Linked DNA regions of Homo sapiens: regions 2, 3 and 4 are each linked to region 1. The links come from fine-mapping of genetic effects on gene expression. A gene starts in region 1. Each other region holds a variant in brackets. All regions are shown on one strand. Distances are between the middles of the regions.

The links. PIP is the estimated chance that this variant, and not a neighbour inherited with it, causes the effect.
Region 2: its variant is fine-mapped to the expression of RHOU in whole blood (TOPMed, PIP above 0.99).
Region 3: its variant is fine-mapped to the expression of RHOU in atrial appendage (GTEx, PIP 0.95).
Region 4: its variant is fine-mapped to the expression of RHOU in tibial nerve (GTEx, PIP 0.96).

What each region holds. Positions count from the first base shown.
Region 1 is chr1:228,731,094-228,739,198 of GRCh38, reverse strand. It overlaps RHOU (ras homolog family member U), which reads right to left and starts at 3,720. Exons shown (of 3, transcript NM_021205.6): 1 at 3,195-3,720; 2 at 1,468-1,526. The coding sequence starts at 3,456.
Region 2 is chr1:228,974,726-228,982,830 of GRCh38, reverse strand. No RefSeq gene overlaps it. Among named protein-coding and RNA genes, the nearest start is that of LINC02815, 180 kb to the left of the region's middle. RefSeq lists an enhancer at 2,936-3,542. The variant G/T (reference allele first, on the strand shown) is at 3,270.
Region 3 is chr1:228,933,434-228,941,538 of GRCh38, reverse strand. The region is part of intron 2 of LOC124904539 (a long non-coding RNA gene); the gene reads left to right. Among named protein-coding and RNA genes, the nearest start is that of RHOU, 200 kb to the right of the region's middle. The variant C/T (reference allele first, on the strand shown) is at 3,533.
Region 4 is chr1:229,081,747-229,089,851 of GRCh38, reverse strand. It overlaps LINC02815 (long intergenic non-protein coding RNA 2815), which reads left to right. Exons shown (of 5, transcript NR_186727.1): 5 at 1-2,752. Among named protein-coding and RNA genes, the nearest start is that of LINC02815, 69 kb to the left of the region's middle. RefSeq lists an enhancer at 1,078-1,796. The variant G/A (reference allele first, on the strand shown) is at 4,444.

The sequences.
Region 1 (8,105 bases):
AATATCACCATTGCATTCAGAAAGATTCAGTGCTAGAAGTGACTGTATTCTTTGATTTTTCTTTTTTTTTACCCCCAAGAGATGGGATCTTGCTCTGTCGCCCAGGCTGGAGTGCAGTGGCACCATCATAGCTCACTACAGCCTCAAACTCCTGGGTTCAAGCGATCCTCTCACCTCAGCCTCCTGAGTGGCTGGTGGCTGGGACTACAGACAGTGCCACCACACCAGGCTAATTTTTTTATTTTGTAGAGATGATGTCTTGCTATGCTACCCAGGCTGGTCTCAAATTCCTGGCCTCATGCAATCCTCCCACCTCAGCCTCCCAAAGAGCATGAGCCACCACACCCAGCCTGATTTTTGTTTTCTACAGACAATACAATACGGACAGTGCTTGGTTTTTCCAAGCTGAAGTGCTCCCAAGCTATGGCCTGCACCAGCCCGGTGTTCCTTGGAGATCAAGGCTCCACGGTCTTATGTCATCTTCAGGTTTAAAAAATAAGATCTGTCCTTAGCTCTGAATCTGCTGTCCCAGAGTAGGTGAGCAACTTGGAAGCTCTGGCGTAGATGAGGCTCTGGGGGGCAGTGGAAAGCCAGTGCCTTCATAAACACAGATAGTCATGTGATGGCACCTCAGAAAGTGAAGGGGGCACTTTCACCTGCCTACAAAGTACCCCCGGAACTTTGCTGAACTCTAGAACATACTAGAGAGACAAGTTCATTAACTATCACTTTGCCAAAATCAAGTACCCCTGGGTGTTCACAAGGCACAGCCTGACTTCAATGACTCGAGTACCCACCAATGGGGGCTTCTTCTGGGGAACACAAAGAGGGAACCCTACACTCCCTGGCTATTTCCTCCAAGGGCCCAGCCCTCGAGACAAGAACCAGCGTTCACAGTTTGGATAGAATAAGCCCAGTTAGTTCATCCCTCCAGCTTAGGACTGCTCTGACAAATGTATCTGTGCTTCAAGTGATGGGGCTGGTCCTAGCGAGTCAAACCATAGCTCAGGAAGGGAAATATTAACCCTTACTGATGTAAATTCCATCTTTTTCTTGAGCAAATTTCTTCAATATCTGACTCACTGGCCTTTAATAAAACGATTATAAGACATCACTAACTTAGTTTGGGAAATGATGACAAAGCATCACTGAAATTTTTTCATAAAAACCAGGGAGTAAGTAATAGAAACTCCTACAAGAGCTGTTCTTGACACTGCTTCCTCCCTTGCCTGGTTACGCAGAGCTGGGCCAAACCCTGCTTTATTAGTTTGGAGGTATCTTCCTCTGCTTCCTGCCGGCCAATAACCTGGCCCCTGCCCACCCTCAGAGAAGGGCCAACAGCAGGGGTGGGTCCACTTCATGAGGCTTTAGAATGACCCAGTTACTGACTGAGGGAATCAAAGGTTATTTGGAAATCTTTAAAAGGCTGTTTCCTTTCCCAGCACTGAGCTGTAACGTGATACTGACCTGTCCGGCAGTGTCACAGAGTTGGAGTCTCACGGGCCGCCCATCCACAGACACCACCGCTTAAAAACAAAACCAAAATGACAATCAGGAGGTGTCTTTTAACCCCTTTCGGAATACTAATAGTTTTAGCTTTCACTATCATTCTCACTCCAAACCCCTTTGCTCCTATTTTAGGTCCTCTAATGAATTAAAGACTAGCCAAAAACAAGGAGGCCCTGTGGAGGCATTTTTGTATACAAACCCACGGCTGGCAAGTCACTCCATTACCGTGAACCAGGCAGCAAATCCCTGAACGCTTTGATGGTGACCCTAAAAAGGCCTATGCTTTTCTCCCAGTCCTGGAAGATTTATTTTCCTGTCACACTTGTTTCAAAGGACCTAAAAACAACACTGGGGGTAAATGGGAAGCAACCCTGCAGTTTTAAATCAGTGGAAAACCTCACAAATAATTCTGTTTTCCCTTGGGAAAGGTTCCCCAACTTCAGGGTTTATCATACAATTCTAGTGTGTTTTGAGAACATGTGCAAACACAGGCTGCCCGCATTGTCCTGTTTAAGAAATGAGGGCACTCCTTATCTCTATGTCAGGTCAAAAGGAGGATTAAAAAAGAAAAAAGAAAGCCATGGCCCCCTTTCCACTGGGATCCGGGGACTCGGGGAGTGTGGAGAGGCCTGCAGCAGGACATGTTGTGGAGGTTTCTATTTTAATTAAGCAGTCAGTTTTGTCTCTTTCTACACAACTTTCTAATTGTTTCTAAATATTTATACTAGTCAGCTGCAGGGGTGGGGTGGGGGGAGGGGAAGAAACAATACCCTGCGGTGGGAACCCACCAGTACAGCACCCATTTCTCTAAGGTACCTTTGGGATGAAAGGAAGGTCAGAGAAGCAATTTTTTTTTAAAGAAGCAAGACAGTTAAGTGTTTCATACTAGTTTCTGTGAATTTTAACTTTTTCTTAAATTTCAAAAAGACCTGAATAGCAAGATAGAGAATTCCTTTCTCTTTGTATCTACCAAGGGAAATGGCATCGCACCCGGTACATAGGAGCTTTAAGTAGCTTAAAGGGATCCTGAAAAGATACCAACAATCAGAATCCGAGCCCATGTGGGCAGGGAAGGTGGTGGGGCTCAGAAGAAAGAAATGGTGTTTACTCTTCAGGTTTCATCCAAACCTAAGCCTTCACGAGGGCCGCTCGCGCTTTTTCACTAAATCAAGTGTTTTCCCGGCGTCTCCGCGGCTCTTTAAAGCGGAGACGCCCCTTGTGAGCTGAGCCGCCTAAAAGCAAAGGAGCGACGCTCAGGTAAAGGCACCTGCGCGTCACCTTCTGATTGAAACTCTGCAGCGGCGCCAGCGACGTCGCCCTCAGGAAACTTTGCTCTATGCAACAAACTGACCGGGCACCCTGAACTCAACCTGTTTCACTCCTACTTATCTGTTGCTTAAATTGTGAGATTTTTTTTTTTTTTTTTTTTGGCAAGGCTCTGACTGCCGCTCCGCCCTCCTCTCTCCAAGCCCACTCCGCCGTGGTCCTTTCGTGTTAGCTCCGCGCTTGCCCGGTCCCTGAGACTCAGGAAACGTCCTGCACTCCTCATTTGTCCGGCTTCCCAGCTGGAGCCGCGCCCGGGGCCCTGCAGCCCCCTTGGGAACCTCGCGACCCTCGCGCCACCTTCCTTCCCCTGGGTGGACCGCGGCCACGCGCCCCCGGCCCCGGCCCCCCGGCCAGCTCACCGGAGAAGTTGTCGAAGGCAGTAGGGATGTACTCGGTGGGGTAGCCGTTGGTGGTGTAGCTCACCACCAGGCTCGTCTTGCCCACCGCGCCGTCGCCGACCAGCACGCACTTGACGCCGCGCCCCTCGGCACCCCCCGCACGCCCCCGGCCCCCCGGCTCCCCAGGCCCGCGTCCCCCGCGTCCACCGCGCTCCCGACGCGGCGGCACCGGAGGCGCCTCGCAGCGGTCGGGGAACGCGGGGTCCCCCTGCTGCGGGGGCATCGATCCGCGAGCGCGGGCTTGCGGTCGCGGGCTAGCAGGGCCCGGCCCGACCGCCCCTCCGCCCCGGAGGGTTGCGGTAGGGAGGAGCTGTCACCGACAGCTGCGGGCGCGTCCCCGGCCCTGGAGAGTGGCGGTTCCGGGCCGCACGGCCAGTAGACAAAGGCGGCCAGGGAGGGTCGTGGCTCCGCGCTCCGGCGGCGCCAGCCGCTCTGCCCTGCGCTGTTGGAGGACAGCGGTCCGAGCGCCGTGGATCCCAAGCGCTCTGTCTCCGCCCGGCTTCCCGGCGACACGACGCGTGGGGGGCGGGCAGGCGGGCGGGCTGGCGGGGAGGGAAAAGAGGCGGGTCTGGCCGAGCGGCTCGGTCCCCGCGCCAAGACCACAGCGCCCCCCGCCTGCGCGCCGCGCGCCTGCACCCGCGCCCGAGGCGCCGCCGCGACCAGGCGGGGACTGCGAACACTGGCGCGGGAGGACCTGGAACACACGTTCCGGGGGACCCCGCGCACCCGGTCCGGGAAGCGACGCCCGAAGGAGCCGGGCCAGCCTCCGCAGCCTCCTCCCCAGCTCCCAAGAGGGTGACCACCGCGCGACTGGCCCGGGAGGTTCCGCTTTCTGGCGCCCACGCGAGCCAGGAAGCCTGAGCCGCCTCCTATTCACTCCGTGGAGCCCCCGGCTGGCCACGGCTCCACCCAGGGGGAAAAATGAAGTGTCCTGGAGGCCTGTCCTGCGAATGAGATTGAATTAACAGACAGCTTTTTTCCTTAAGTCTAACTGCAGCTGATCGTGTGATTTTTTCTCATTTTGAAGCAAAAGGATGCCAGCTCCATTGTGAATGCTCCTTTGACTTTGTCTTTCGGCATGCCGTGAACCTTTATACATGTATGCTCCAGAAATTTTTTTATACCCCCAATTCCTTCATTTACTTAAAGGTAATTCGGAGACATTAATATGTCTGAAAAAATATTCCGTTTCCCTTTGATTCATTTCTCTCTCTGCCTTCCTTCTACATGTGGTCAACAGTCTATTCAGAAAAAGGACGCCTCTTAGCCAAGTCAGAATACCAAGAGTCCTGGGGGTGTACAGCGTGGTGTGAGAAGGGCCACATATTATTAATACACATTGATACTAGTGGTAGTAAAAATAACAATAACAAATACTGAACTTTCATAATGTGTCAGATACTGTTGTAAGCACTCTTCAAGAACTAATTCTTTTAATCTTAACATTACTTACAGATGAGAACACCTGAGGCACAGAGATATTAAGTAACGTTTTGGGATTCCACAAGCTAGTAAGTGGCAATGCCAGGATCCAAACCCAAATAGTCTAGCCCCAGAGCCTGAGCTTCTAACCAAAATCCTGGAGGCAAAAATAAGTCAGTATGATAAACGTAATCTTGAACGTATGGCCATGGTCAGAATGCAGAGATGGATTTATCAAGAAGTTAGAAGCTTGAATCCAGGACCCCTGACTTGCAAAGGACACTTTCACATTGGAAGACCTAGCAATGTGTACACGTGGTAATATGTTTCTGTAAATTTTGAAAAAAAAAAAAGTATTTTAATCACCACCAGTTATGTTCACTGTCTTTTTAAACTGTAACTTACCCTCATATTGAGTGACTTTGAAGAGGCCATGAAGATTTTGGGGATCAGCCAAAGAAAGTGAAGTTGGGGAGACCCAAACAGGTTGTTTGGGTGTAATGGGATACAGAATCAGGATGAAGGTGAGATAAGGGGGATGTCAAGGATGCAAAATTTATGACAAATTGAGCATTCAGAGGCAATATCAAAAAACAACAAATTTAGAGGGCCCTTACTCTCAGGGTCAGGCAAGTGCCAATGTTAAGTTTTGAGCCTCAGGTACCTGACTTGCCTCTCCCTCGCCCTGGCTGTGATGACAGGATATATTTATGTGGTTTACAGTTCTCCTATGTAGATATGTTGTTGCTAGCCATCCAGGTATAGGAATGGCTACCACTGACATACCTATGACCCTCTGTGAGAGTCACATTGGTGCCCTTAACTGTCTTACTTTCCCCAACACTAGAAGGGTTCCAGTAGCAAGAGTAGCAGAGCTTGAGATGGGCAGAGCTGGAAGCTAGTCTGGCAATTCTTTCCATCATAAAGCACCTAATATCGGCTGGTGCGGTGGCTCACGCCTGTAATCCCAACACTTTGGGGGGCTGAAGCAGTCAGACCGGTTGAGGCCACGAGTTCGAGACCAGCTTGGCCAACATGGCGAAACCCTGTCTCTACCAAAAATAAAAAAATTAGCCAGGTGTGGTGACTCACACCTGTAATCCAAATACTCCAGAGGCTGAGGTAGGAGGATCACTTGAGCCTGGGAAGTCGAGGCTCCAGTGAGCCCTTGATCAACCAATATACTCTAGCCTGGGCGAGAGTGAGACACTGTCTCAAAAAGAAACAAACAGAAGAAAACACAACATTGTTAGAGAAGGTTTGGTTCTCTCTACTAAACCTGATCAAAACAGAAGTTGTCTGCTGTCAGAAATGTACCTGTACTCTAAATGCAGCAGATACACTTACAAATGCATCATACATTTTTGGAGAAAAATCACATGAAATGAATGATCTGAATTCCCATGTTTGTAAGGACATGAGGCTGTAGTAGTACAACAAAAAGCAAGTTCACCTGTGTGTGAAGTAACTTCCTATTGTTCTTATAGAAAATATCTTACAAAACTGAAGAAGTGATCAAAGGGTATGCAACTGAAAAATGAAAATAATGTCATAGAAGTGTGTCAAGCAGTTTATTAAAATGTCATGTCTTATGTATTTTGTTTAAGTTTATGGTGTTTGTTAGCCTTTTAAAATTTGTAACTTATTGTGATGCATTTCTCACTTTAAACATTTGTTTTTGTATCTAATTTTCTATTCTTAATTTTGTATTTTTTTTTCTTAATGAAGTCTCACAAATGTGATAAGCCTCAGGCCCTACAAAACTTGGCTTTGCCCCTCCATCTGGCCAGCTGTCAGTTTTTGTGTCCTGTGCGTCCCCCTCTTGCTTTTCCCCTTCTCATGCTGAATATCATCCCACGCCCACTCATTTGGGCCCGTTTTTCTGGACACAACTTAGTCAGCTCCCTGCATCCTTATCTAAAATGCCGGGAACTAATGTTTGCCCTATTCATGAGACTCTTCTGTAGGCAACATAGGAAATCAGACCCCACGCCAAACAGTTCGGTATTTCATCCAAGTCCAAAAGCAGAGAGATGACAGAATGCCTACCACTTTACCCCTTTACAGAATGCCTTTACTTTACCCCTTTTTACGTTGAACTGTCCCGCACCCACTCATTTGGGTCCATGTTTCTGGGCTCGACTTAATCAGTCCCCTACAGCCTTATCTAAAATGCTTGGAACTAATGCTACAAGAAGCCCTCCAAGGTGTGTGGGTTCAAGTTGTATGATATATTTGTTTGTTTATTTGCTTATTGTCTGTCTCCTCTTACAAGCTCCATGAAATCAGAAACTTAATGTTGCTCATTCCTATATCCCACACTTAGAAGCACGTGGGGCAAGTAGTAGGTGCTTAATAAATACTTAAGCAGTGGTAAATACGTAAGTGAAAGGAAAACATGTTTTGAACTTGACGGTTCTGCAAAAAAGAAAGAAAGAAAAGGAGAAGAATGTAAAACATGGACTCTCAAAACATGGACAGTTGTATTTTTATGCTTTTATAAAATATTTTTAGAATGAATGAAGGAAATTTGACCACTTCTTGCAGCTATTAATAGAAAACCATGTCTTTGCTCAGTTTTAAGACAAAAAATGCATTACACCTCATGTATTCCCATTTGTTTTTCACCAAGACAGTACAACGCCTTCATTGTGCAGTGGGCCTAGAAAATTCTGAAAACTGGGTGCAGAATTTCCGTTCTTAAGATCTTGTCTCTCTGAGGCCCTCCAGCCCAGCTGTGAGCATTCATCCCCCCTACCTACCCCCAACACCTCCTCCAGGACTTCCAGCAACCCACCCCTGGGTCCCCAACAACATGTCAGAGAAGGTGTCTTCTCCTCGAACTACAGGTCTGTAACCCCTTCCTCCTTCTTCCATGAACTTGCTCTTTCTCCGCTTAGGTGTCACCTCCTCCAAGGATGTTTATTTTTCTGCCTAATTTTCTATACTTAATTTTGTGTTCTTTTTCTTAATGAAGTCCTCAAAATGTGATAAGCTTCAGGCCCGACAAAACTTGGCTTTGCTTCTCCATCTGGCCATCTGTTCGTTTTTGTGTTCCATAGCCTCCCTCTCTTGCTTTACCCCTTTTTATGTTGAACTGTCCCACACCCACTCATTTGGGCCCATCTTTCTGGGCTCAACTGAATCAGTCCCCTACAGCCTTATCTAAAATGCTCAGAACTAACGCTTGCCCTATTCATAAGAATCTTCTACAGGCAACGTAGGAAAGCAGACCTCCACACCAAACAAATTGGTGTTTCATCCAAGTCCAGAAATGTTCCCTGACCCCTTATGTGGATATATTTGTGCTTGTCCCTATCACAGCCCTTATCTAGTGAAATCATCTACTGATTATACAACACCTACCCTTGCTCATAATCCCCTAAAAGGGAGGATCCCCAGTTCACAAAACTCTTCCCCTAGCACAGTATTAATACATTTTCTAGGATT
Region 2 (8,105 bases), 240 kb before region 1:
ACATCGCAGAGTATACTTACGCAAACCCAGATGGTGTAGCCTTCTGCACACCTAGGCTGCGTGGTATAGCCGATTGCTCCAAGGCCCCAAACCTGTGCAGCATGTTACTGACCTGAATACTGCAGGCGGTTGTAACACAAGGGTAAGTATTTGTGTTTCTAAACATATCTCAACACAGAAAAGGGACAGTAAAAATACAATACAAAAGATAAAAAATGGTCACCTGTAGAGAGCACTTACTGTGAATGGAGCTTGCAGGACTGGAAGTTGCTCTGGGTGAGTCAGTGAGTGAGCGGTGAGTGCATGTGAGGGCCTAGGACACTACTATACCCTACGGCAGACTTTAAAAACTCTAGACACTAGGGCTACTATAAATGTACTTTAAAATGTTTTTCTTTCTTGAATAATAAATTAATCTTAGCTTACTATAACTTACACACTTTATAAACTTTTTCTTTTTTAAGACAGAATCTCACTCTGTTGCCCAGGCTGGAGTGCAGTGGCCTGATCTCAGCTCACTACAACCTCCACCTCCCAGGTTCAAGCGATTCTCGTGCCTCAGCTTCCTGAGCAGCTGGGATTACAGGCGCCTGCCACCACGCCCGGCTAATTTTTGTATTTTTAGTAGAGACGGGGTTTCAGCATGTTGGTCAGGCTGGTCGGGAACTCCCAACCTCAGGTAATCTGCCCACCTCGGCCTTCCAAAGTGCTGGGATTACAGGCATGAGCCACCATGCTGAGCCTTTATAAAATTTTTAATTAAAATTTGTTTTTCTCTTTTTTAATAGCACTTAGCTTAAAACACTAACACATTGTACAGTGGTACAAAAATATCTTCTTTCTTTATATTCCTATTTGATAAACTTTTTTATTTACATTTTTTTAAAGAGATGGGGTCTGGTTCTGTCGCCCAGGCTGGAGTGCAGGGGCACGATGACAGCTCATTGCAGCCTCGAACTCCTGCGCTCAAGTGATCCTCCCACGTCAACCTCCCGAGTAGCTGGGACTACAGTTGCATGCCACCACACCTAGCTGTTTTTTTTTTTTGTAGAGATGAGGTCTTCCTATATTGCCCAGGCTAGTCTCAAACTCCTGGCCTCAAGCTATCCTCCTGCCTTGGCCTCCCAAAGTGCTGGGATTATGGGTGTGAGAACTGTGCCCAGTCAAAAATTTTAATTTTTTATTTTTCTTTCTTTTTAAACTTTTTTGTTAAAAACTAAAACATAAACACACACATTAGCCTAGGCCTACACAGGGTCAGAATCATCAATATCACTGTCTTTCATCACCACATCTCATGCCACTGGGAAGTCTTCAGGGTAATAACACGCATGGAACTGTCATATCACATGATGAAGATGCCTTCTTCTGGATGTCTCCTGAAGCACCTGCCAGAAGCTGTTTTATGCTTAATATTTTTTTGTAAGAAAAAGGAGTACACTTTAAAATAATCATAAAAAAATGAGATAGTGTCTTCATTAATTTGTGTTGCTATAAGGTAATACCTGAGGCTGGGTAATTTGCTTTTTTAAAGAGGTTTATTTGGCTGTCTGTTCTGCAGGCTGCATAAGAAGTGCAGTGCTGGCATCGGCTGAGCTTCTGGCTGTTTCCAATCATGGTGGAAGGTGAAGGGGCACCAGCACGGGCAGACTACCTGGTGAGAGAGGAAGCAAGAGAGAGACGGGGAAGGTACCAGACTCTTTCTAACAACCAGCCCTCAACAGAAGGAATAGAATGAGAAACACTCATTACTGCAAGGAGGGCACCAAGCCATTCGTGAGGGATCCTCCCCCATGACCCAGACACCTCCTATTGGGCCTCAACATTGGGGATCAAATTTCAACATGAGGTTTGGGGAGACAAACATCCAAATTATAGCATATAGTAAATACACAAGGGAGGAATGTCGCCATTTATTATCATTATCAAGTATTATGTACTGTACACACTTGCATGTGCTGTGCTTTTATGTAACTGGCAGCACAGTAGGTTTGTTTACACCAACATCGCCCAAACATGGGAGTCATGCATTGAACTACAATGTTATGACCACTGTGACGTCACTAGGCAAGAGGAATCTTTCAGCTTCATTATAATCTTATGAGACCACTGTCATACATGTGGCCTGTCATTGACAAAACATCTTTATGCAGTGCATGACTGTATAGCTCAATATCAGCTAGAGGGCTGATATGTGATGTCTATTATGCATAATTTAATGATACTTATGTGAACAGTTCATTCTATCTAAACACAGCCAAAATAACACACATTCCACAGGAGACTGGAATCCCGTGCTGAGGCCTTGGGGACCCGAGAAGCACTGGGCTTTCTAAGAATTAAGTAGTAAAGATCCGAAGGAACCTCTGGGCCAAGTCTTCCCTCCACGCATAACTGGGTGCCTTTCCCCAGACCTCCAGCTGGCTTGCGGCACCCAGCTCTACCTCCTCTGTCAGATGGCCTGGGTCGCCCTTCATCACTTGCTCCAGCTGAGCCAGGTGGCCCCTCCCAGCCTCCCTGCTCCAGTTCCCAGCTCAGGAGAAACCTCTACTGCAGAACCTAGAGCTGTAAATATCTGTGCACATGGTTCTCATCCTGATGAAACTGTTGGCTTGAGCAGCATTCTTCAGAATGCTGAAGGGCCCATAGTGTGTGGTGATCAGCATGAAAGAAGAGAACATATCAAGATGCGTCACGCATGGTATGGACCAGCTTGTTTTGTAGAACTTTTGTTTCTTCTGTCTGTGCAAATGTGTGTTTCTGTGTGTCTGTATATGTCTCTGTGTGAATGGGTGTGTGCAAATGTGTGTTTGTGTGTGGGTCTGTGTGAGTGTGTGTGTGAATGTGTGTGTCTGTGTATTATGTGTCTCTGTGAATGCGTGTGTGTCTGTGTGGATGTGTGTGTGTCTGCATGTGTCTCTGTGTGTGAATAGTTGTATGTGCGCTGGATCACCACGTAAAAGCTATGTCTTACGGTATATTGTGGATTATGATTTTAAAAGTTGAAAGCCCTGATCTAGAGGGCTGGCATTTTCCCTCAGTGCCTACAATGTGTCTGGCTTCAGCAGATGCTTGTTGGATAAGTATGTGAGTTAACGTATCAATGAAAGAGTTAAATTGATAGCTAGGGAGAGTAGTGCTGATTCCTCTCAACTTCTTCTGCTCCAACAACTTCCAGTCCCTTCCCCCACTGGGCTGCAACCCATCTTCCCATACACTAACTGTCCCTTCCTCCACTTCCCCTGCAGGAGGGGGCCCCAGCCCCGACT[G/T]GCCTCATCAGCGCACTGACCTGGTGCTGCACGAGGGAGGATGCAAAAGCAGAACCCTCCCATTTGGGTATCTACAAAGCTGAAGACCCAAACTCCACTGCGTGCTGCGGTGGGTGGTGTGGCACAGAGTGGTGCCTGGCACCTGGTCCCTCCACTAAGCATCGGCACCCCTCACTTCTGCCCCAGCCCTCTACCTACCCATCCCCGACTCAACTCCTGCACAAGGAGCAGAACAGCATCCTGGAATCCACGCTGTGCAGCCCCCTGGCAGACACACACCTGCGCCCTTTTTTCCTTCCTTTGCCAGGTGTCTGACCCCACTGGGCTCAGGAAAGGCGGAAGCTCTGCTAGGGGTGAGTCCAGAGGCTGACAAGCTGGTGCTTCATAGCAGTGAGTTTGGAAGGTGGCCACTACAGTCACCATCTGGAAATGCAAAGTGTCCCCGAGATGGTCACTTCTCAGCTAGCTCTGGGTGGAACCCAGAGGCTGTGTGGTGTTGTACCGCACCTGAAGGTCGCCACAAGCTTCCCTCCAGAGAAAATGCCTTGATGGGTCTCACTTGTTACTCTGCTTTCCCTCCAGGGAACCTTTGGGAACTGAGCCGGAGTCAAACATTTGGCTGAGATTAGGCATTGGGCCAGACTCACTCCTGACACGCTGCGTCAGCAAATCAGGGCAGAGCAAAAGCGGCCGAGGCACAAGTGAGGCCAAACAACCTGGAAGACACTGAGCAGAGAGAAGGCGGGCTGCTGGCTGGGACATGCTTTTCCAGGGTCCCTGGAAGAGCTTTCCTTACTCGGGGAAAGAGTGGAGGACATGGAGATTTGACAGCTAGCTGCTTAGCAAGGGATGGAAGCAAGCTTTGGGAACACAGATTGTCTGGGGACAGGAAGCAGAGAGCAGGGCTGGCCAGTGAGCTTCCCTGGGGCCATCCACATTCCTGTTAGTTCTGAGGGTAGCACAGCTACCTCCCATTTGTCTTGTTGCCTGCTGCACGTAGCATATAGGCTATGTGCAGACTAGGGCACACTTGGGCATTCAGTGGCTTGTAGTGCATGATTGTTGATTGAATGAAGGACCTTGTAAGTGTCTTTAGGAAGAACTTCTAAGCGCTCTCTTGATGCCAGAAAGCAGAATTCCAGAATTGTTTCCAAGTAAAGCAATTAACATGTAAATTTAAAACAAACAAACAAAAAACCTAAATGTCACAAGAGGCTCTAATGGTCTTACTAATTGGGCACAAAATGAGGGTAGGATTTCATTCCTAAATCGCCAGTGTTTATACTTCACTCCTGGCACATAAGTGCACAATGAATGTTTAATGAACGAAGATGCTTTGATTTCCAGGGCTAAAGAAAACCTTCTTCCTACTACCTTCATCTCCCACCCTGACCCACCCCACCAACACACACGCACCCTACACCATACCCATACACCACACTGCACACCATAACACACACACTCCCCACGGCATAACACACATCCCACACCCCACCCCAAAAAACACACACCATCACACACACAAACAAAATACACACCCCACACCACAGTACATATCCCACACCATAACACGCACATTATAAGACACACACTCCACATTCTAATACACACTTCACATCTTAACACACACCTCATGCCCAACACATTACATACACCCCCCCCATACCACAACACATACACACACGCATACCCCCACCACAGCACACACACACCTTCCCATAACACATAGGCACATACCTCTCACCATAACACACACATTCCACATAATACACATATACATCCATACCCTAACATACACACACACACACAACACACCATAGCACACACACACAAACATACCTTCCCCACATACAAAGCTTTCAAGGCCTGAAAATCTCTAGAGATATTTTCTTTTAAATTGAGGCCTTGACCCTTATATAAAACCTCTGTACGTTTGCAGATAAAGTCTCCTTATCCGTTACAGTCAAGAATGAATGTTCGCCACACTCTTCCTTGCGGGCTCCTTTAGATGAAGGCCAGGAAGAGAGCAGATGTGGGTGTGGAGTGGGTGAAGAACCAGGCAGGAGCAGGTGGGGCCAGCACTCCCTCCCCGTTTCCTCTCCCTTCTCCTCTCCTCCCCCAGCCCTGCGGACCAGAAATCCAGGGGACAGTGGAATGATCTTAAGGAGTAAGGAGGCGATCCTGTCATCACAGCCCTAAAAGGAATCAGCTTAAAAAGAAAAAGGTGTAATTTACACGGAAAATCCACAGCCTTTCAGAAAAGGACAGAAACGAAGAAAACAAAACAGATTTAGATCACAAGCTTGGGCGTGGGTTTTCCAGTGGCAATTCAATTAGAAACAAAAAGCACCTAAGCCAGTAGGTAGGTGTTAGAGCTGCCTGTCGGAAACAGGGAACACCATTTCTTGGTGCCAGGTATCACAGAGGAATAAGCAGCGGGGCTCAGAAGTGGGATTCAGATTCTTCTGTGTGAAATGTGACCTATGCTTCTGATTAGCATTTAAATATAAAAATAAAAATACCTGGGTTTGAAGAATCACAGACATGGATGGCGACCCTGAGACCAAGGGGTGAGATGACTCTTCTGAGACTATACATATACTGCACGCCGTCACACACACACACTACATCATAATACACACACATGGGCTTCCACCCTAGCCTCAATTTGCAGGCCACATGCATGTCTGTCTTCTTCATCCTAACCATCTCAGGATGTCAGGGGCAGTCACAGGACTGGTCTGTGTTTGGGAAGATGGTGCCAGTAACTGTGTGGCAGGTTTAGAGAAATCACTTATTGATGGTCTTCAATGACAGTACGTCTGAGCAGTGTTTTATTAATAGAGCTTGGACTGTGGTATGAACAACTCTCCATCGGGGCCATGTCTTCAGGACCACACCACAAGACACCACAGGGACAACCAGATGCTGCCCAGCTGGGAGAGGAGAGTCTGTGGGAATAGACAGGAGTCCCCCAGGAGCTTCAGAGAAACTCTCCACAAGCCCAGCACTGCATGCCACCTGCAGAGAACCAAACTGCTACCGGAAAGCCAGGTCTCGAGCTCTGAATAAATTCCATGAGGGCATCTTTCAGAGTGTCACTTCAACCTGGGCAGGTTACTCATCTCTGAACTCCACGTTTTGGGTGCTGTCTATGTCTTTAACACGGGAGCAACTTAGGGCTCTCAGCCCTAAAGAATCCTGGACAAGTCTCTGTCATGGCACCCAGAACCAGGCAAAGCAACGAAAAGGCATTTGGAACGAATGAGTGAATGAGTGAATGAATGAATGAATGAGATAATAATGTATTTATTGGGAGGCCGAGGCGGGCAGATCACGAGGTAAAGAGATCGGACCATCCTGCCCAACATGGTGAAAACCCGTCTCTACTAAAAATACAAAAATTAGCTGGGCATGGTGCGGGCGCCTGTAGTTCCAGCTACTTGGGAGGCTGAGGCAGGAGAATCACTTGAACCTGGGAGGCAGAGGTTACAGTGAGCCGAGATCACGCCACTGCACTCTAGCCTGGCGACAGAGTGAGACTCTGTCTCACAAAAATATATATATATATATTTAATCTCATCAGATGAACATATATTCATCTCTCAAAGCATCTCCTGCCTGCCCAGTAAATGACCGGCATGATGGTCTGCAGCTCTCCTTTCCCCACATGGGTGACAGGGAACTAATGAAACCCAGAAATGGAACTAGGCCATGAGCAGTACAGGAGGCTTTTGGACATGAAAATCAGGTTTGGTGTGTGCTGTGTGCAGTGGGCCAAAGAGAGGGAAGGGGAGGCGGCAGGGACAAGGAGGTGGGGAGGGGCAGGTGGGAGGCAGGGCCCTCAGTGCTCCCTGTGCAGATGAATGCAGGCCTCCAAGAGCACAGCGGGGCACACTGTCTCCATCCCTGGCCCTCCGCTGTCTCCAGCATTTGGTTCCCCCTGGCTGGAATGGGGCATAAGGAAGGGAGCATAGGCAGGAAGCCCAGAGCTCTGAAAAAGGACAGAGGCTTCCGAGCCTAGGCAGGGCTTGGAGCCATGTACATGTCGGACTACTATAGAACTAGCGCCCTGGGGCCTCAGGAACATGGGGGCTCAGATGACAGTGGTTCAGCCCCTTCCAGTCCTGTGCTCTTGGACTGGGCTGGAAGCTGAGGCCAGGGAAGGCAGGGAGCAGAGCCCAGGCCCAAGGGAGGGCAGGAAGTCAGGAGAGCTAACTCCCTGGCCAAGGTATGGTGTGCCATAGCTTTTGTTAGGCAGAAGAGGCCTGGGCTTGCCTTTCTGTGTCTTCTAAAGCATCTCGTCATGGACGCCTTTCATTCCCCACTGGGCTCTTTCCCTGGTGTCTCTTTCCTTCTTGTCGATTCTCTCTGCTCAGTGACGGCCATGTGTCAGCTGGCCAAGACCACTGGGGTTTATGGGGCAGCCTCTCTTCTTTTCTTTTTTTTTTCTTCCTTTCTTTTCTTTTCTTTTCATTCTTCAGGAGGGTCTGCACTATCTCATTCTTTTCATTCTTCAGGAGGGTCTGCACTATCTCATTTAACTCTAACAGCACAACATGAGTTGCCCCATCGTACAGATGGGAACACTAACATTCTAAGAAGTGACAGCCCAAAGTCACGCAGGAGCAGAGAGAGCAAACTGAACCCCAAAGTCAATGCCTTCCAGAGTGGGCTGCTTCCCCTCTTGGGCCACACCTTTTCCCACGCTCCTGCTCCCTGAAGAGCCTTTCCCTCCTCTCATCTCTGGCTGTCGTGGGTGTGAGGCTCCCTGGGCTTGTCTTCAGCACCGAGAGTGAAACCAGGTGTTTTCAATAAGAGATTATTAGGTGAGAC
Region 3 (8,105 bases), 200 kb before region 1:
CCCAGACACTGGGTTGCAGCAGAGAAAGAGGTAGGGTCACCAAATGAGATGGGAAGGAACCCCAAATCCATTTTCCTGAGGAGTTTAGGGTAAGAGTTTTTAAAGGTTTTGAAGTGGGCCAAGGTGTGGAGATCCTTGATTGGTTGATGAGTGCAGGGTGAAGTCCTGGGGCAGGGCGAGATGAAGAAGCTGTATTCTCACTCTGATCCACTGTTCTGAAAAGCATATTAAGTGATCTTTATGTCAGAGATCCTGTCTATGGGAACAATGCAGATGCAAATTAATTCTTAAGCAGCCTTAGGACCCTAATGCCAGAAATCCTGTCTATAGGAACAACGGGGATGTAAGTGGTCAGAATCCAGTGCTGCACGGCTTTCAGCAACAAGGAAGTGGGCAGAAGTGCACGCTGAGTAATGCTTCATTACAATGATATTTCTGTCCAGAACCCGGCATACAATTTGTCAACACTATGGGGACAGTTGCAGTAACGGAGTTGAGATTACGCCCTCCAACCCTGTAGCTCATACTTCACATTGGAATTCTCCTCAAAGTGCAGAGGTGTGCATTTTGTGGGGATATGAGGGAAAAGCTATCTCTTGGGTAAAGAGGGGAGGCCCGCTGGGGGTCGGCAATAGGATGAGGTAGCACAGCAGCCTTGCTCCCCACCACCCCAGTAGTCAGAAAAAGCCCAGCCTGAAGAAAAGTCTCAGAGTCCGCTGAGACAATGGAGGGGACTCAGCAGGTGACAAAGCCCCACCCTGCCCAGCAGCAGCCACAGAGTGCTGTCCCCAGCAAGGGAGGGAGGGCGCTGAGGCTCAGGGGACCCAGTGGGACGAGGGATGCAGCCTTCCCATCTCCACCATGCCCCCCATTTCATGGACTTTGGGACCCTCTCAAGGTCCATATGGCCCAGTGGCCAGCAAGGCTGTTTTCAGAATGCAGACCCAGTACAGATGCGTCACCAGGAGCCTGTGCCCTGGCCTGTCTTGACTAGCGACCCCCTTAGTCCTGTCAGCCCTGAGAGACTCCAAGGCAAGCCTCTGGGGGCTGAATCTAACAAATCAACCATCTCCCCAGGACTCTATCATGAGGCTGCACATTGGGTTCCCCTCCAACAGAACATTTTTCCCCAGAAATCACAGGATTAGGCCTCCTAACCTTCTCTCCCTAAACTGCCATGTCCAGGTGTTACTTGTAAGCTGACCATCAACTGAACCATAGTCATGAGAAAATGTGGATTTATATGTAGATTTGCTTGCAAGAGAAGTTGGGGGACCCCGACCAGGGACCAACAGTTTTGTTCCTGTGCTTCTGCCTGACCTGTGTCCTTGTCCAGTGCCTTGGCTCTCCTTCGTGTCTGCTGCAATCTCACTTAGGCAAAACTGTGGCTCTTTTACGCGGCCCCATTTGGTCTCTGGATGAACTGGGATACGATACTTTCATAGTCACATCCATTAGCAGGGACGGCTGCCTCAGTGACAGGTGTGGGTTGGGGGAAAAGCACACACTTGAGTGGCAGAGCCGGCTACTGCTCCTCCCAGGCACTTGCTCCCTCTTTCCTTCCCTGTCCTCTGCTCTGGAACTTCATAATCCTGAGCCACAATTGTGCACATCAGAGGAGAGATACAGGAACTAACAAAAAAGTGGCCCAGCAGTTTTGTTCCAGAGAATTGAGTTTAGAGCACAACGCCTCACCTGGGCTACCACAGTGCCCTAGAAAGCTGTAGATGGATACAGGATGTGATGGTGAGTTTCATGCATCAGCTTGGCTAGGCTATAGGACCCGGTTATTTAATAAACACTAATGTGGACGTTGCTGTGGAGGTATTTGTGGTGTGGGTCACATGTACAATAAGCTGATTTTCAAGAGATTGCCCCTGATCATGTGGATGGGCCTCATTCCGTTGATCCCCCTAAGAGCAAAAACTGAGGTGTCCCACAGAAGAAATTCTGCCTCAAGACTGCAGCCTCAACTTCTGACTTCAGAGCTGCTACCCCGCTGCTTTGAGGCCGGAGGCCCTGCTGGGCCCAGCCTCCTGTGGCTGAGTGTCATCTATTGTCTCACGCTCAGAAGGACCCCAGCCCCATCCAGAAACCAAACACACCCTGTGGTCAGTCTCAACTCAACCTGCCAACCACCTAGCTGTGATTCTGTCCTTCTCACTATGCTTATTACAAACAGGTGGACCAGGCTATAACTGGGCAAGATCTGCTGATGGCTTACTGCTGACTGAATCAGGCAGGGGTGCCTGCTCTTAAAGGTGTTTCTTTTTAGTGAGATCATGGCCTTGGGTGTGAGGCGAAGGAATAACTAGGGGCTAGGGAGCAGCAGATCCAGGTGTGAGGCCCAGCCCTTATGTTTATTGCCTCTGTCTTCTCACCTGTAAAATGGGTTCACAACAATAAGATTACTCACAGTGTTGCTTTGAGGCTCAAAGAAGGAAAGGTGTGTGAAGCATGTTGAGAACTATGAAGAAAAATACCAAGGTTAATAATTAATTAAAGCATTTTTACCACTTTCCATCGAACTATTGAGAACAACAAAAAACTTTTCCAAACTGTGGCTAAAAGCAAGAGGTCGGTCTCTCCTCTAACGTTTCTTCTTTGATTCCCAGGCTTTTGCATTTAGCCCAAAATAGGCTCCTTGGTGCCCTGCGTTTTAAGTAGGAAGTGACCAAGTCACTGACTTCCCGGAATCTGTCTCTGCCAACACAGGCCATAGAGTCCTTAACAACCCGCCTGTGAACAGTTATTTATAGTGTTCACCTCAGGCGGACACCACTTTTAGGGCAGCAGGGAAATGAGAACATCCGCTAAGGGCGGTTTAGATCGATCTGTTTTGCCCAGCTCTGCTCAGCTGGGAGAAGTCTGCTGTCTGCTCCACAGCCCCTCCACTTCAGAGCAGGTAGTCGTGGCTTGCACTGTGGGCTGTTCCCCCAGCCTCTACACAGCTAGAAGACAACCTCTTCCTGTTCACAGAGCTCTAGAGGGGGACAAGGGAGTGTCAGCCTAGCATCTGTGGAAAAAGAGTTCAGGGAGGCTGCAGTGAGCCATGGGAAAACCTAGGTCTCTTCCCTGCTAGTGTGTGACTTCCAAGACCTCTGGCTTCCCCTCCTAAGTGACGGTGGCATGCTCTGCCTGCGTGTGTCATAGAGATCCTAAAACCTCCCGTGAACAAAGACTGGTACACAGGCGGGTAACAGTGTTGCTATTATTCTTTCTTCAGTAATATGACCCAACACAAGCAAAGAAAGAGACAGGCAGGCTGGCTTCACGGCTAGAGTTGCTGAAGATGACCACCGCAGGAGGGAAAGGAATCACGTTCATGGTTACTTGTCATCAGTGCAGAGTTCCCTCCCAGTGTGTTAGGACAAAAGGGAAGAACCTCTGCAGTTGAGAAGCAAGGCACAGATAAGAATCTTTGGATTTCTTCGGTTAGGTACTAAATGCCTGGAGTGCGGCTTTTTCTGCCAGCAGCTGCGTCCAGTCATTTGTGGTGTTGAGGCCAGGGTAGCGGCCCTGTCCTGGGAGT[C/T]GGCCTCAGTCTTTGGCTTTGGCTGTAAGGCACACTGAGAGAAACTAGGCTGCAGGCCGCTCTTCTCTGCCTTAAACCCCTCTGGGTGGGGCAGCTCTCTCGAGAGCAGTCATTACTGCAGCTGTGTGAGCTGCAGGGTGGCTGAGCAGAGGAAAGGGAGGCACGATTGCTCACCCCTTGGGAGGCGGCACAGGTCACAAGAGAGCTTTGGAGTTGTACAAATCTGGGTTCCAATCCTGGATCTCCCTTCTTAGACATTCAGACCACCTCTCTAACCCTCGGTTTCCTCTTCTGTGTAGTGGTGATAATCCTACAGGCCTCAAGATTTTGGGGACACCAAACGAGAGCACAGAAAACCAGTGCAGGGGGGAGGGTGCTGGTGCAGGGTAGTTGGTGAGTGAGCATGACCCTCAGCACCCCTGACTCCACCGTTCACACCTGAGAACGTAGGGCCGGAGATGACTTTGCCAAGACTGAGCACCAAGCAAGAAGCACGGCTGCGGGAAACGCGGCATGCTCAGGCATCCACAGTCTTTAAGCTAAATGACATCTTACTGAGCGCTCCCTTCCACAAGACTCCGTGTTGGGAACTGTGCATGCGAGGGATCTAGGTTGCCTGGGGGAGGTGCTCTCCCCTCACCTTCTTCAGAAAACAACTTCCAGGTTTAGTGTTTAGAGTAATTTTTTTTAAATGTACAAAAAGTGCTTTGGTGTCCAAAAAAATGTGTTGAATTTGAAAAGATTCAGATGGCATCCATAATCTTCATCCCCGCCCTTCCAGCCCCGGGCTTGGTACCTCTGCAGGGCATGCCCAGGGTGGTTGGGGACTGGCACAGGTCTGTGGCCCTGGGGGTTGGGGACCCCTGCAGTAGGGTCCTGAGACTTTGTGAGTCGCTGGGCTGCCTGCAGGGCCAAGGGGCATAAGCAAATCTCCATCCTGGCATTGGTGCAGGTGAAAAGGAGGTGTAAGTCCCTGCTGCAAATGGAGAGGACACAGATATGACACAAATGGAGAGAGACAGTGAAAATCACCGAGAGACCAGGCTCTGCCCGGGCTGGCCATCTACCAGCCACCCAGCCATGGGATGCTGGACAGTCCTCAGGCTTCTCGGGGCCTCTGTTTCCTCACCCAGGAAATGAGCTCAGGCCAGAGGGACAGTTTTCAGGGTTTTCAATTTTTTTTTTTAAAGCAGCAGAAACTTTTCTTTAAAATAAACCATGAGCAGAGCCCCAGTACATTAAAAAAAAAAAAAAAGTAGAATCTGCCTGGTGGAGTGGAAGTGGGGACCCAGAGGCCTTGTGTGCCTTGACCCGAGGATGTGTTGTTGGGGCCGCACTTTCAGAGGGGCACCCAGCACCCTATATTGGGCCCACAGGTCTACATCTGTTCCCATGTCCCAATTTAGCTGTAAGTCCTTGCAGGCAGGGGCTGTCCTAGAGCACTTGGGGTGGCCAGAGCCCAGCCCAGCACCCTGCTCACACGCTCTGGTGACATGTCATTAGTAGAGGCAACTTGCGCAGGTCTGCAGCAACCTCCATTCTTGCCTCCTCAGAAGAAAAAATTCGACTGAGGGGCATAAGGCAGAAGAAAAGACCAAGGCAAGTTTTAGAACAGAAGTGAAAGGAAGTAAAGTACACTTGGAAGACAGCCAAGCAGGCAACTTGTGAGGTCGAGTGCAGGGTTTGACCTTTGATTTGGGGTTTATATGTTGGCACGCTTCCAGGGTCTTGCATTACTTCTCCTCTGATTCTTCCCTTGGGGTGGGCTGTTCGGGTGGGCTGTTCCCATGCGCAGTAACGGTGCTTGAGAGCGGGGCATGCACAGTGTGTTTACTGGAGTTGTACACATGCTCACTTGAGGCGTTCTTCCCTTACCAATCTGGCATTCCTAGAGGAAGGTCATATGCCAGCTAAACGCCTCCATTTTGCCTCTTAGTGCGCATGCTTGAGCCCACTCACCCAATCCCCTGCAACCTTATCGGGAAGCAGCTGATCACCAGCTTCAGGTGTTTTCTGTTTATTGGGAGACTGCCTTTCCCTGGTGCTGGCTGTGCCCAATTATTATTTTAGAGAGACAGTTAACAACAACCTGATCATCACCTGATGGTTGTCTGACATTCCTGGTGTGTGTGTTGGGAGAGCCCCTCCTGCCCTGCTCATGCCTGGCTAGCTACCTCCCTCATCAGTACTGCAGTGGGAAGAGGCAGCCGGTAAGTCGATGAGAAGTGCCTCCTCTGCAGCAGGGCTTTCAGTCTTGTACACTTCACGGGGTGGCCGGTTTTCTATTTTTCCAAAGACTGGTATTAAAATAGACAATTGTCCCTACTGCAGTCACCTGCAGTTATTCAAATAAAGGGCATTTTGGCAATAGTAAAATGGCTTGGCCCTTGGGGACCACTACTCTAGAGCCACTTCCGGTCATTTGCTTGACCTTGTCATCTGCCTGTCTTTGCAAGTGAGTTCGCTTTAGGCTGACCTTTGGTCCATGGTGGTCCAGGTCTGCCTCCTCACAGCCCTCAGGCGTGGCTGGCTGTGACTCATCTGAGCCTGGAGTGTTGTCCTCTTGGTGGGCACTGATCACTGTGACATCTCTGCCTTTGGTCCAAAGTCCTGTCTGTACTTTAATAGAATATGACTACTGAATCTTGACCTTTGGCAAGAGAGGCCTGGGGTGATTTAAAGTAAACAAAACAGCCCTTACCACCAGAACCTGCCCAGGGAGGCAGGGACAGAAGTAAAGCAGTGTTCTGTCCTCAAGCTGGTGGCGACACAGAAAGAAAGCCAGAAAAAGCAGCCCCACAGTGTGTTAACTGAGTCCTCACAAAGTGCTGCAGGAACCCATTGGTGGAAAGAGTTCCTTGACTAGCGTTGAGGGAGAGGATGTGCTTGTGAGGGGACCAGGGAAGGCTGCTTGTAGGAAAAACAATGTGATGGTCCTTTCATTTATTAACTTATTTATTGATTTATTTTGTAATTACAACTTTACTTTAGATTCGGGGGGGGGGTGGTGCATGTGTAGGCTTGTTTACATGGTGGGCATATTGCATGATGCTGAGGTTTGGGATACGAATGATCCTGTCAGCCAGGTAGTGAAAACAGTACCCAGTAGTTTGTTCAACCCTTCTCTCCTCCCTCCCTTTCTGCCCCCTCTAGTAGTCCCTAGTGTCTATTCCCATCTTTATATCCATGAGTACGCAATGTTTAGTTCCCACTTGTGAGAATGGCGGTATTTGATTTTCTGTTCCTACGTTAATTCGCGTAGGATAATGGCCTGCAGCTGCATCCATGTTGCTGCAAAGGACATGATTTCATTATTTTTATGGTTGCAATGGTTCTTAAAGGCTGAGGAGTCTGCCAGGCTAAGTGGAGGGGACACCCAGCAGAGGAGGAAGAGCAAGTAGTGGCATGAAAGACTGTCAATGTCAGTAACTTTGGGAGAATGTGTCTATATCATTTTTTCAACTAGACCATTTTCTTTAAAGTGTGGTGAAGGCGCCACTCATAAATATCCTGTCTGCAGAGCCCTTAGACCTAACTGTTATATGTACATGCCAATTTGCTGCCAGAAACTAGTTTTGGTGGCCTGCACTTTGCAAATGACAGGCCCGTCACTGCAATGTGGCAATGGAGGTTTCAGGTGGAACCAGGACACTTGGAGCTATTTTGACAGAAGCCTTTTCTCCCACAGGAGGCCCACCTTGGCAGTAGTCCTGAAGGTAAAAAGAACTCTGGATTAAGGTGTCTGTATGATTTTCTGTAGACAATCAGGGTCTTGGGCTGCTTGTGGGAAGTTTCCTGGAATGGCACAATCAATTCCAGGGCTCCACCTGAAGCTTCAAGCCCACTTTCCAGGATATGTAGCCCTTCTGCACATAAAGCACCCTGCCAGGCATTGCAGGGCGTCTGGGGAGAAAAGGTCCTTGAAGAAGACTCCAACCCCATTCTCCAGTAGGCTGGGATTCAGGAAGGGCTGGAAGACAGGAGTGAAAGTAAGCATTCCATGCAAGAGGTCCAGAGTCCAGTGAAGACTCAACGGCACTTCCAGTTTGTAAACGTGGAAAGAAAAGGGAAGGCAGGGTGAGCTCTGGGTGTTGAAAGAGATTGGAGTGGGCCACAGGGAGAAAGGGGGTGGAGAGGAGTGCTCCAGGTGGAGTGAGGGAATGGTGGGAGTGAAAGTTCATAAACAAGGATAGAGGGAGAGCTTTTCAACCTCCTGGAATTGCCAAGTATCTTTCTCCTAAGGGCTAGGAACTCCCTGGCAGCCTGACTTCTTTAGGAGATCCCTCCACTGAATTCTCCACGCACCTTCAAAATCAGTCCAGTCTGAGGTTTAAATGGTAAATCATGTGATTGAATCAGCAGCAACAGACTGGCCAGGAACACCTTTGGAATATGCAGTAGAGACTGCCCTGCATGACCTGGGGTCTCTGGGGCAGATGGTTCAGCCCAACAGCATTCAATGTTGCACCCTGGCTCTTGAATAAGCACTGAGTTGATGGTGGTGATTCTGAAGGGCTGTTATGGATTGAACTGTGTCTGCCCAAAAGCTGTTCTAACCCCAAGCACCTGTAGA
Region 4 (8,105 bases), 350 kb before region 1:
GACAAGCCCACCAGGGAGCCCTGGATATCCCTCCTCTTTCCAAGCAGCTGGGGAAGCTGGTTGCCCTGGAAACCTGTTTTAGGTGGCAGCATCTTCCTCCAGGAGGTCGAGGTGTCTCCTGGACCTTAGAGACTCCAGGACACAGGACAGAGCTCTGAACTGTGGAGCCGGGAAACCTGGTTCCAGTCTCAGCCCAGATTTACCAGCCGTAGACTTGGCCAAGTCACTCACAAAACCCAAAGGGTGAGGCAGAGCTGGCCCTGCCTGCATGGCAGGGAGATTTTGAGAAGCATGAAGAGAGTCAGGAAGTGCCTGGGGATCGAATCCACCCAGCAGTGCAAGGCATTGCTCTCCCAATTCTCCATTGGGAAAAAAAAATCCAGACAAAGACAGTACAGAGAATATGGTAGCCAATACTGCAGCAGTCACCACCCGGAAAAACAGACACTAATATAATAACTTGTGATTTTTGCTTCATATCTCTGTGGCATAAAACCATGACACATAAAGTTTATGTCCCCCTTTAACCATTCCTCAATGCTATTCCCCTCCTCTCTCCCCCTCCTCAACGGCAACCACTGATATGTTCGCTCTATTCTGTGCTTTTCATATTTTAAATATATTGTTTATGGGAATGATCATATATAAGAAATATATTATACTGTTTGTTTTAAAAGTTTGCATAAATAATATCAAAGTAAATTATTTAAGTGTCCCCAGCAGTCCCTGTCCCCGTCCACCTTTCCCTCAGTTCTCTTCCATCACAGTAAAGAAAACTGCCCAAACCTGGTCACCGCCCCTGGACTTTCGAAGTGGCTTCCTACTTGGGGTCCTGCTTCCAACATTGGCCCTGTGAGTGACAAGGATCTCATTCCTTTTGTGCTCAAAGCTCTGGCCTCTCTCTCCCTCCTTGGCCTTGCCCAGCCCAGCCCCACCCCTGTCCTCAGAACCTCACACCTGTCGTTCCCCACCTGGGGTGCCCTTCCCGCTGGCTGGCCCCTCACCTCTCTCAGATTTCTGCTCTAATGACAGTAACTGGAGAGGCCTTGCCTGAAGTCCCCTCCTCTTTCTCCTTACCTTGCTTTTTGGTTATGCATCCTCCTCCTAATTGCTTTATTTATTTATGTGTTTAATCACCATCCTCTTACTTTTCTAAGGCTCGTCCTGATTTTTTTCACATCCTGGTATCTGAGCCGGCAGTGATTCTATACCTGGCAGCAGCCTGTGCGGCAGAGCTGTGTGTAAAGGGGTCCATGCAGAGCCCTGGGAGAAAGAAAAATGAAGGGGAAAAGGTTGACCTGAGCTTTTTCACCTGGGGCTGGAAAGTGGACCAGAGCCTATCATTCCAACCTGCAGGTGCCTAAGGCCCAACAGAAAGTTCACCAGGAAAGACCAAGAGAATTGGGGTGACCCTCCCACAGTATCAGAGGGAAGGGGAGTGGGGAGGAGTACAGCAGTGCAGACCAGCCCCACAGGTGCTTAGCCAGGCCTTTGGTTCTGCCAGGGAAAGGAGGGTGCCTTCCACAGCATGAAAACTACACCACGTCCCAATGTGTCCGGGACCTGCCGCCAGCCGCCTGCACAGTAGTCAGGTGGATGCCACCGGGATACAGCCCACACTGACTCCTGACCCCAGGGGGTACAGCCCACGCTGACTCCTGACCCCAGGGGGTACAGCCCACGCTGACTCCTGACCCCAGGGGGTACAGCCCACATTGACTCCTGACCCCGGGGGTTACAGCCCACACTGACTCCGGACCCCGGCGTGGGAGGGGCTGGCCCGAGATGAAATCTCGAAGGTGGGTCAGGCTAGGTCCTGGAGTCAGGGGAAGCGTGGGGTTCAGGCCAGGCCTGGGTTCTCCCTGAAGTGAGGCTGACTCTGAGCCTTTCTTGAAACCCCAAATGTCACAGCAGTGCCCCGAAGGTAGGTGAGGCTCTGTTGCAGGGAATGCTGAGGAAAAAGGGAACATCAGGGATTGGTCTGGCCTGAAGCCTGCACTCCCCTAAATTATACCCTGGTATGATTTGGGCTTGCCCTGGAGTTACCTCAACTAACCTGGGGTCCTTGGGGGAAACAGAGATGGACAGGGTTGATGTATATTTCGGGTTGATTTGGACTCTAAGGATTATCCCAGCTCAGACCTCGCTCTCAAGGAATAGGAGCCTGGCATCTGTCTATCACCCCCTTGGCCCTGGGTATAGTCTGGATGAGCAGAGGCACGCGTGTGGCCCCAAGAGTCCCACCCTCTGGCTCTCTCCTCCCAAGACATTCTGGAGCCATGACATGTCTCCCAGGAAGGGAGAATTATTTTTGTCTGTGGCATAAATAAAGCCAGGAATGAGTTCCAATAATCACAAGCACATGCCAGCATGTGGAGGCTACTCTGACAGCAGCAGAAGGTTCCAGCACTGCCTGCCCTGCTGGTCCTGGCTGCAGGGAGGTGACCGGGATGGTCAGGGGTCGGGAGCAGGAGGGAGCCTCCAGGATTTTATTTAAAATGATCAGGTTTTTCAAACAAATGGAAAAATAAAAAAATCTTGAAAACAAATCTTTTAAAAATTTACCCACTTCACTCCAGATCTTAAGAAATAAAAATAAAACATGACTATTCCTCTAGAATCCTGACCCATACCATACAACTCTCTTCCCAGAGGTCATTGCCAACATCGATTTCTATTTATTTTTCTCATGCTTGCTTTAATATTTCTACTATATATGTATGCATCTATAAATAAACTCTATGTGACATTGTTTTGTGTTTTAAAATCCTTTGACTTTTTACTGTACATATGATTCTGCAACTTGCTTTTTATTTTAGAAAATTAGGGCAAAAAACCACATAACCTAAAATTCACCCTCCCAACAATTTCTACTTGTAGAGTACAATATTGTTAACCACACTTAAAGTGTTGTGCAACAGATTCCTAAGCCCCCTTTCCCCTCCTGCATGACTGAAACTCTGCACCGACTGAAAAGCAACTCCTCACCCCTACTTCCCTGGCTTCTGGCAGCCACCATTGTGTTCCTGTGAGTTTGATTACTCTAGACACCTTTTACAAGTGGCATCATACACTTTTTGTATTTTGTGATTGGCTTATTTCACATAGCATAATATCCTCAAGGTTCATCCACTGAGTAACATGCAACTGAATTTCCTTCCTTTTTAAGGATGAATAATATTCCATTGTCTTTACAGAGCACACTTCTTTATCCATTCACCCATTGATGGATATTTACGTTGCTTTCACCTCTAGGCTTTTGTGAATAATTCTGCTGTAAACATGGGTGTACAAATATCTCTTAAATATCCTGTTTTCAATTCTTTTGGATACATACCCAGAAGTAGGATTGCTGGATCATATGGTAGTTTTATTTTTATTTTTTTGAAGAATCTCCATACTGTTTTTCACAGTGACTACAACATTTTGCATTCCAATCAACACTGAACAAGGGTTCTAATTTTTCCACATCCTTGCCAAAATTTATTTTCTGTTTTTTGTTTTTATACTAGCCATCCCAATGGGTATGAAGTGATATTTCATTGTGGTTTTGACTGAATTCCTTAGTGATTAGTGATGTTGGGCATCTTTTCATGTGTTTGTTGGCCATTTGTATATTTTCTTTGGAGAAATATCTATTTAAGTCCTTTGCCCATTTTTAAATAGGGTTATTTGGGTTTGTTGTTGTTGTTATTGAGTTGTAGGAATTCTTTATATATTCTGACTATTAACTTTTTATCAGATGTATCATTTAAAAATATTTTCTCCCATTCCATAGGTTGTCTTTTCACTCTGTTAATTGTTTCCTTTGCTGCAGAGTTTTTAAGCTTGATGTCATCCCATTAGTCTATTTTTGCTTTTGTTGCCTCTGCTTTTGGGGCTACCTCCAAGAAATTCTTGCCAAATTCAATATCATGAAGTTTTTCCCATATGTTTTCTTCTATGACTTTCATATTATACTTTCAGGTCTTTAATTCATTTTGAGTTAATTTTTGTGTATAGTATATGCAATTTGGTTTTTAAACTTATTTTGTTTTTGAGATTTACCCATGTTAGTACAAGTAGCTCCAGCTCAACACACGTTGCTGCTGCTGGAAACCCCTGGTAATGTTAGTTATCCACAAGTCGTTCATTCATTTGTAAACTCTTTACACACAGTGCTGTGATGAGTGTTCTCTAAGGTTCCTGTGCACATATGTGACAAGCAGAATCATGGGCCCTGAGGTTGCACTTCTTCTGTATTAATAGATAATCCCCAATTGCTATGCAAAGGGGTTGTAGGCACTGGATATATACCAACTTCTGTAAAGACTGAAGAAAAACTCCTTGTACTTCTGGCCAGGGAGAAGAAAAGTAACCATTTAAAAATACACCAGAACATTCTGTTCTTTTTAACAAGGCTTCCCCTCAGGAGAAACTATTTAGCCAGAGCCTAACCAACAT[G/A]GAGGAAGGAAAATATCAAATTCTAGCCCACGAATTAATTTCAGACAAAGTAGACTCCAGAGAAAGGAAAATTATCAAAATAAAGAGAGACATTATGTAATGATATAGGGTCAATTTTCCAAGAAGACATAACAATTCTTAATGTGCATGCACCTAAAAGAACTGACATGAGACAAAATGTGTGAGAGAAAACTGATAAAAATCCAAGGAGAAATAGATAAATTCACTTTTATATTTGGAAGCTTCAACTCCCCTCTATCAGTAATTGACAGATCCAGTAGGCAGAAGATCAGTAAGATATAGTTGAACTGAACAACAGCATCAATCAACTGCATCTAATTGACATTTATAGAATACTTCATCCATTAATAGCAGAATACACATCCTTCTTAAACTCACACAGAATTCACCAAGAGACTGCATTCTGGTTTATGAAGCGCACCTTAACAAGTTTAAAAGAATAGAAACTGTATAAAATTTGCTCTCAGATGACAGTACAATTAAACTAGAAATCAGTAATACAAAGACAGTGGGAGAAACCCCCAATTACTTGGATAAAACGATCCACTTCTAAATGGCACAGAAGTCAAAGAAAAAGTCTCAGGAGAAATTTAAAGATATTTTGAACTAAGTGAAAATGAAAATACAACCTATCAAAATTTGTAGAATGCAGTGAAAGCAGTGCTTAGAGGGAAATTTATAGCATTAACTGCATATATTTGGAAAGAAGAAAGATCTAAAATTAATAATCTAAGCTTCCACCTTCAGAAATGAGAAAAAAGAAGAGCAAATTAAAATCAAAGTAAGCAGAAGAAAACAAGTAATCAAAATAAATGTAGAAATGAAACAACTTAAAATAGGATATCCTAGAGAAAAAATCAATAAAACCAAAAGCTGGTCCATTGAAAAGATGAATAAAGCTGATAAACATCTAGTCAGGTTAATTAAGAAAAAAGAGAGAAGATACAAATTATTAATATCAGAAATAAAAGAGGACTGCCACTAATCTCGTGGACTTTTAAAGAATAATAAAGGAATATTATGAAAAAGCCTATGCCCACAAATTTGATAAGCTAGATGAAATGAACCAATCCCTTGAAAGGCACAATCTACTAAAATGCACACAAAACCTACACAGAAATAAATATATAATCTGAATAGGTCCATATCTATTAAAGGAATTGAATCAGTAATAACAGAAAGCACCAAGCCCAGATGGATTATTGGTGAATTCTACCAAACATTAAACAAAGAAACTCTGCCAATTCTCTACACTCTTTTCCAGAAAACAGAAGCAAAAGGAATACTTCCTAACTTATTCTGTGAAGCTAGGATTATCCTAATACAAAACTAGACACAGACATTACCAGAAAGGAAAGTTAGCAACCAATATCTCTCACAAACCCAGATGCAGAAATTCCCAACAGGCTAAGCATGGTGGCTCACTCTGGTAATCCCAGCACTTTGGGAGGTTGGGACAGGAAGATAACTTGAGGTCAAGGAGTTTGACATCAGCCTGGGCAGCACAGTGAGACCCCGTCTCTACGGAAAATAGAAAAAAATAGCTGGGCATGGTGGTGCATGCCCATAGTCCCAGCTACTCAGGAGGCTGAGGTGGTAGGATCACTTGAGCCCAGGAAATCAAGGCTGCAGTGAGCCATGTTCACAACACTGCACTGCAGCCTGAGTGACAGAGTGAGACCCTGTCTCAAAAACAAAACAAAGCAAGCAAACAAACGAAAACCAAAAGAATAAAAGGTAAAAATTAGAAATCTTCAACAAAAGATCAGCAAATTGAATTCAACAATGTATGAAGATAATTATACACCACAACCAAGTGGGATATATTTCCAGGTATGCAAGGCTGGTTCAATACTTGAAAGTCAATTAATGTAATCTGTCTGGTCTAGCTGCTAAAATGCCACAACTGGGTGGCCTAAACAACAGAGATTTATTTTCTCACAGCTTTGAAGCCTGAGGAGTCCAAGATCATGTGCTGGCAGATTGGGTTTTTGGTCAGGGCTCTCTTCTTGGCTTGTAGGTGGCCACTTTCTTGCTATGTCCTCACATTCCTCGGTGTGTGTGCATGGAGAAAGAGAGGGCATGCTCTCTGACGTCTTTTCTTACGGGAACACTAGTCCTATCAGATCAGAGACCCTTCTGATTTTATTTAACAGTAATTACTTTCTTAGAGGCCCTATCTCCAAATACAGTCACACCAGTGTAAGGCTTCAATCTATGAATTTTGAGGGGACACACACATTTAGCTCATAACATAATACAATACATCAATAGGCTAAAGAAGAAAAATCTTATGACAATATCAACAGATGCAGAACAATATTTGACAAAATCCAATATCCATTCATGATAAAACAAAACAAAAACAACTCCCAGCAAACTAGGAATACAGGGGAACTTCCTCGACTTCATGGAGAACATCTATAAAAAATACAGAGCTAACATCAAATTTAATGGTGAGAAACTAGATGCTTTCCCACTAAGATCAGGAACAAGCAAGGACATCCCCTCTCATCACTCCCATTTAAAGTAGTACTAGAAGTCCTAGTTAATGCAATATGACAAGAAAAGGAAATAAAAGGTATGTAGTTTGGTAAGGAAGAAACAAAATTTTCTTTGTTCACAAATGACATAATTACCCCAAACTCCTGGAGCTAATAGCAATTATAGCAAGGTTGCAGGATGCAAGGTTAGTATACAAAAGTCAGTTTTTTTTAATATACCAGCAATGAACACTTGAAATTTAAAACTAAAAACAAAATGCAACTTACATAAGAACTAGAAGAGAAAGAAATATGTAGGTATACATCTAACAAACTATGTACAAGATCTGTATGAGGAAAATAAGAAAACTGATGAAATAAACCTAAGAAAATCTAAATAAGTGGAGAGAGATTTCACATACATGGATAGAGAGTGTTTTAGTTTGCTACGGCTGCTGTAACAAAATACCACAAAATGGGTGGCTTAAATAACAGAAATTTATCTTTTCACAGTTCTGGAGGCTAGAAGCCCAAGATCAAGGTGATGATAAGCCAGGCACTGTGGCTTATGCCTGTAATCCTAGCACTTTGGGAGGCCAAGGTGGGAGGATCACGGGAGTTTGAGGCCAGCCTGGGCAACAAAGTGAGACCTGTCTCTACAAAAACAAATGGAAAAATTAGCTGGGCGTGGTGATGTGCTCCTGTAGTCCCAGCTCGTTAGGAGGCTGAGGTGGGAGGATAGATTGAGCCTGGGAGTTCAAGGCTCCAGTGAGCCATGATCACACCACTGCACTCCAACTGGGGGAAAAAAGTGAGACCCTCTTTCAAGAAAGGAAAAAAACGTGTTGGCAGGATTAGCTTCTCCTGAGGCCCCTTTCCTTGGCTTGCATATGGCTATCTCCTCCCTGTGTCCTCACATGGTTTTCTTCTCTGTGCATGTGCATCTCTGCTGTCTCTTTCCTTGTGTCTTAATCTCCTCTTCTTATAAAAACACTAGCAGATTAGGTTAGGGTACATTTCACCTTAACTACCTCTTTAAATAGTTCCATTTTAACTTTAAGGTCTTATCTTTAACTGTCCTATCTCCAAATATAGTTACATTCTGAGCTACTAGGATTTCAACATATGAATTTTGAAGGTTGGGGGACGTAAGTCAGC